Linked DNA regions of Homo sapiens: region 2 is linked to region 1. A link means that fine-mapping ties the variant in region 1 to the expression of a gene that starts in the linked region. Tissue or cell type: uterus. Region 1 holds a variant in brackets; the other region holds the start of a gene. All regions are shown on one strand. Distances are from middle to middle.

Region 1 (2,755 bases):
AGATTAGAGGTGACCTTGGCAGTGGGCTGTTGCCTGGGTGAGCTTGATGTGAGTGGTGGTCACCTGAGTATAGACAGGCATCTCATTCACCCAGTGTGCACAGGTAGTGATCACCTGAGTGTAGACAGCGAGTGTGCACAGGTGGTGGTCACTTGAGTGTAGACGGGTGTCCGAATCACCGAGTGTTCAGAGGTGGTGGTCACCCAAGTGTAGACGGGTGTCTGATTCACCGAGTGTGCACAGGTGGTGGTCAACTGAGTGTTGACAGGTGTCTGATTCACTGAGTGTGCACATGTGGTCACCTGAGTGTAGACAGCGAGTGTGCACATGTGATCACCTGAGTGTAGACAGCGAGTGTGCACAGGTGGTGACCACCTGAGTGTAGACAGCGAGTGTGCACAGGTGGTGGTCACCCAAATGTAGACGGGTGTCTGAGTCACCGAGTGTGCACAGGTGGTGGTCACCTGAGTGTAGTCGAGTGTCTGATTTACTGAGTGTGAGCAGGTCACCCGAGTGTAGACATAAGATTTGTGCCCTCTGTTTCAGTTACACCTGAATCATAAAAGGTTAAAAGGGAGAAGGGTAGAACCTCCACCCCATTCCCCCAAATTGGTGCTGTTCATAATGCTTTTGCTTTGATGGATGCCTGTCCCGGTAACTTAGAAATCACCCGAGAATAAAGATGAAGGGCTGGCCTGGCCCACAGATGAGCCGGCATCCCTGGCCCACCTGCCCCCCCACAGCATCAGGCCCAGGACCCCCGCCGACCTCTGCGCTCTCCCTGCAGGGCTACGCCGCGGAGATGGATAACCCACTGATGGCTCACCTCCTGTCAACAGGCCTTCACAACAAGAAGGATGTTTTGTTTGGAAACATGGAGGAAATCTATCACTTCCACAACAGGTGGGCCCTTCCCCCCGACACAGGCACGCACCCGTGATCTCTTGCAGCTAATGGTGCTGGCTTCAGGGGGCTGGAATGGGGGTGGAGGCCAGGCCATGCCTGGCTAGGGAGGGGCGCCCAAGGGGTGGACTCACAGAGGCACAGGCTTGAGTGTGGGTACATGGGGCCATCTCTGAGCGCCCACGTGGCACCGTACCTGGTGGCCTGTGTCTAGGCAGCCAAGTTGTAAGTGAGCCGCCAGCCGTGAGGAGAGGGCTCTGAGCCCGAGTGCGCCCTGTTTTGTGGTGCAGGAAATGGGACCCGCCTGCCCCTCATCCCCTCCTCATCCTGCTGGGCAGGTGGAAGCCGGAACCCCCTCCCAGGTGTGTATTCGGCCCTTTAGGGGGTCACCGAAGGCCATACCACATAGCAAGGCCTGTTTTGTTCCCAAGCTCTTGAAAAGGACGGCAAACTAGGCGTTCCTTACCCATCATGGGGGCTGCTTGTCCCCCGAGCGACCCGTGGCCTCTCCAGTGCAGGTGGCCTGTC[C/T]GGCCTCTTGTCCTCCACTCCTCTGAGCTGTTTGGCTGCTTTAACACAGTTTTGGGGAGCTCATGGGAAGGTGTAGGGTGCACACGCAGTGCAGAATGCCAGGGAGGCTGCAGTGGACAGCCCCCGCTGCGTGTCCTGGAAGGAACCCATGTGAGTGGCTCCCATGCGGCCATGTGCTTGGGGACCAGCGTGCCCCACTGGCCATGGGAATCGCCAGTGCTTGGGATGTTGTTCTGACACCTGTTTCTTGCCCTCTCATCACCTCACCTGCCACTTACAAGGAGGCAGCAGGTCTGCAGTTGACCACCAAGGAGCCTTCCACGTCCACGGAGCTTGGGCAGAACCTTAGTGTCCCTTAGTATCTGTCCTCATGGCCCCCAGGGTCTCAGCCAGTCCTGCACGCAGGGGTCCCCACAGCTTTCAGCTGTTGTGCTCATGCCCCAAATCCATCCCCCAGACGGTTTTCCCCTCCAGCCGGACTTCCTCCAGGGGACAGATGCAACAGAAAACAGCCCAGGAGCCTGGGGGCGGCGCTGCCTAGGGCCAGGGCTCAGGGTGTGTCTGCAGAGAACCCACAGACCCACGGCCAGTTATGGGGGTGGCGCCTCCAGGGCCCTGAAAGGTCCCATCTCTGTCTTTGCCTGCGGCCCTGTGAGCCGTGTGTGTGCTGAGGGAAAAGCAGCTCCCTCCAACTTCTGTGTGCAGCCAAGGCCAGAAATATAAAGAGACTCAGCCTGGGGCTGCACCTGCTGGCGCCTGAGAGCTTGGTGCTCAGGACAGGCGTGGCTGCGGCGTCTCCAAGTCATGCGGGGCAGATTGCCCAGAGCAAGGCGTAACAGGCTTCTGAAAAATGACGTCCATCCACTTGTCACTGGTCCACGTGACTCGGCCTGTCTTTCATACTACTTAAAAACCTTCTTTGTCTAGGATATTCCTCAGGGAGCTGGAAAACTACACTGACTGCCCAGAACTGGTTGGAAGATGCTTTCTGGAGAGGGTAGGTGGTGTTTTGACGTGTATTTTGTCACAACTTCTTAAAAGTACTGAATAATGACTTCAGATTCTACTGCAAGTTCCTATTCTAACCAACTGAAATCACAAAATACGATGTTTTCAATTTGGCTGAGATACCATGATGCTCCTGTACCCCTAGAACCTCCTGAACCCCCAGAACCTCCTGAACCCCAGAAAACCTCCTGAACCCCAGAAAACGTCCTGAACCCCCAGAACCTCCTGTACCCCAGGACCTCCTGTACCCCAGAACCTCCTGAACCCCAGAACCTTCTGTACCCCCAGAACCTCCTTTGCCCCCAGAACTTCCTGT
Region 2 (2,603 bases), 110 kb before region 1:
TCTTTTGGACGCTGGAATGCTGGTGCATTGTTGCCGGATGCTGGAATGGTGCACGCACGCTCTGTTGGACGCTGGAATGCTGGTGCATTGTTGCCGGATGCTGGAATGGTGCACGCATGCCCTGTTGGACTCTGGAATGCTGGTGCATTGTTGCCAAATGCCGGAATGGTACACGGATGCTCTGTTGGACGCTGGAATGCTGGTGCATTGTTGCCGGATGCTGGAATGGTGCACGCATGCTCTGTTGGACGCTGGAATGCTGGCGCATGTGCACATGTTATTGGCATGAGCTGTAGTTCAAACCTCAGCCATATGATGCTTGAATTCCCAAACCATTCGTGGAAATGTGTACTTCTTCCTGCTGGAATTCTCTCTCTCTCTCTCTCTCTTTTAACTGATTGGGGAGTGAGGTGGGGGGGGGGGTCTTGCTACATTGCCCAGGCTCAAACTTCTGGGCTCAAATGATCCTCCTGCTTCTGCCTCAGCTTCTGCCTCGGCCTCCGGAGTAGCTGGGACTACAGGCCTGAAATACTGTTTCTTTAAGGAAGGGCATGTTACCTATAATACCAAACCACAAAAGGATAGCTGCGGTTTTGGGCGAGGAGAGCTCAGAGAGTTTCTTGCATATGGCCCTGTGATGGCGGCCATGGCCCTGCATAGACACGAGCTGGAATCTGCAGGTGGCAGCCAGGACGCTGCGTGTGTCGAGTGCACAGTGTGGCTTGGTGCCAACCATGGCGAGGGTGGAGAGCCCCGTGCCTGCAGCGCGCGCTTCCCTCACTGGGTCCTGCGTCCTTGGGCAGGCGATGCCCCTGCGGGGAGGGGCTGGTCCATCCCCGGCCAGCCACGGACCCACGCATGGACCCAGCGACCCACGGACCTGCTTACCTGGGCGCGGCGCGGGTGGCATGCGGCCACACGGAAGGGGCGCGCTGGGCTGCTGCGGCCTCTGCAGCTTCTACACCTGCCACGGGGCGGCCGGAGGTAAAGGGAGGCGGCGGCCAGGCGCGGCCCCGCGGAGGCAGCTGCACTCGCTCGGTCCACTCGCGGCTTCGCGGCTGCCCGCAAACCAGGAGGGCGTGGAGACCCGGAACCGGGGGGAAGGGCGGGGGCACTTGTGCGGCACCCGCGGGGCTCCCAGGGGACCTCGGCGGTGACACGAATTTCTAGGTGACCTTGGCGGTGACACGAATTTCTAGGTGACCTGTGTGATACACTAGGTGACCTAGTGACACAGGTGACACTTCCAGGTGACCGCGGCGGTGACCCGCGGGGCTCCCAGGTGACCTCGTTGGTGAGCCCCGGGGCTCCCCGACGACCGCGGCGGTGACACGCGGGGCTCCCAGGTGACCCCGGCGGTGCACTCACAGGACTCCCAGGTGACCCGCGGTGGTGACACACCGGGGCGGGCGCGCGCCGCTTCCGCTTCCGCCGAGCCGCCCCCCGCCCCCCGCGGCGCAGCGCGCGCCCCCCTCCCGGTGGCGCGGAACCAATCCTGGGCAGGGAGGCGGCGGCTGGAGGCTGAAAGCGCTGCCGTGGCCCCCTCCCCGCCTCCGCCGCGCCCCCTCCGCACTCGCACGGCCCCACCCGCAGGCGCCCCCCGTGCGGAGGAAGCGGATCTGCCAGGATCATTTTTGTTGTGTCGGAGGATGAGGTTTTGGCTGAGGACTGAAGAGATGGCCTTGGAAGAAATGGTGCAGAGATTAAATGCGGTTTCCAAGCACACGGGTAGGAGGAGCTGCTGGCCGTCAGTGATCTGTGCTTAAGCTTGACATCATGGGCTGAAATGTGGGGAAATGCGTCTGATTTTTGTAAGCCGCCCTCGTGTTCCTTTCTAGCCGTGGTAGCTGTGACATGGGGGGCACTGGTTGGCAGCTGGTGTGTTTTCAGAGGCTGTCGGCGATCGTATGCTGCCCGGGATAGTCAAAATGACTGCACGTTGGTGACACTGGCTCTCTCAGGGTTGCTGGGTCTGCATGCGGAGCCATTTGTGTGTCTGAAGTCTGCCCATCAACCTGCCTGTCCGCAGCCCTCGCAATGGAGAATGCATTGCGAATGGAGAATGATCTGAGCCAAGGGCTTTCAGAGCTTGGGGTTTCAGAGCCAGGGGTAGGGATGGTGAAGCTACCTGGAAGCTCGTTTTGAGGATGAAAAAACCTGGACTAATCAGGTGGTTCTTTTCTTCATTAAATGCAATTTAAACCTAAGACAGATGTTTGAGACGGTATGGGTAAAGAGTGGACTGGACGTTCATTTTCAGTATTAATCGAAATATTACTTCAAATAAGCTTTGAAGAGTAGTTCAGATCGATTCTTTTAGGTGTAAGCAGAGACTGGGCTGACAGCTTGCATCTGGCCGTGGCTTTCAGGCGGTCGCATCTGAGTTCTCAGGCTGTGTTATGCAGAAGGGAGAGGCATCCTTAACTCGTTTTCCTTGAAATGAAGAGGAAATAATGATATATCATTAAAAGTAAGTTGCCAAGTGTTTTGCCTGATGTTGCCATATGTTATGTCATATATGCCATTACTAGTTGTCTAACTAGTACTTGCCTGGGAGATTAAAATGTCAGTTGCTTGGTTTGGGTGTGGTTCTCTTTCTCTGC

Which allele goes with the higher level. Alleles are on the strand shown, and positions count from the first base shown. SD is a standard deviation of normalised expression in the study named.
In carriers of allele C in region 1, the expression in uterus of the gene that starts at base 1,484 in region 2 tends to be lower than with T alone (moderate effect, 0.49 SD a copy in GTEx).

Evidence for each region. PIP is the estimated chance that this variant, and not a neighbour inherited with it, causes the effect.
Region 2: it holds the start of MCF2L, and the variant in region 1 is fine-mapped to the expression of MCF2L in uterus (GTEx, PIP 0.94).

What each region holds. Positions count from the first base shown.
Region 1 is chr13:113,081,640-113,084,394 of GRCh38, forward strand. MCF2L (MCF.2 cell line derived transforming sequence like) reads left to right here. Exons shown (of 30, transcript NM_001112732.3): 17 at 788-903; 18 at 2,359-2,428. Among named protein-coding and RNA genes, the nearest start is that of F7, 23 kb to the right of the region's middle. The variant C/T (reference allele first, on the strand shown) is at 1,432.
Region 2 is chr13:112,967,731-112,970,333 of GRCh38, forward strand. It overlaps MCF2L (MCF.2 cell line derived transforming sequence like), which reads left to right and starts at 1,484. Exons shown (of 30, transcript NM_001112732.3): 1 at 1,484-1,728. The coding sequence starts at 1,650. MCF2L-AS1 (MCF2L antisense RNA 1) reads right to left here and starts at 908. Exons shown (of 1, transcript NR_034002.1): 1 at 1-908. RefSeq lists an enhancer at 639-1,158 and a silencer at 1,360-1,419.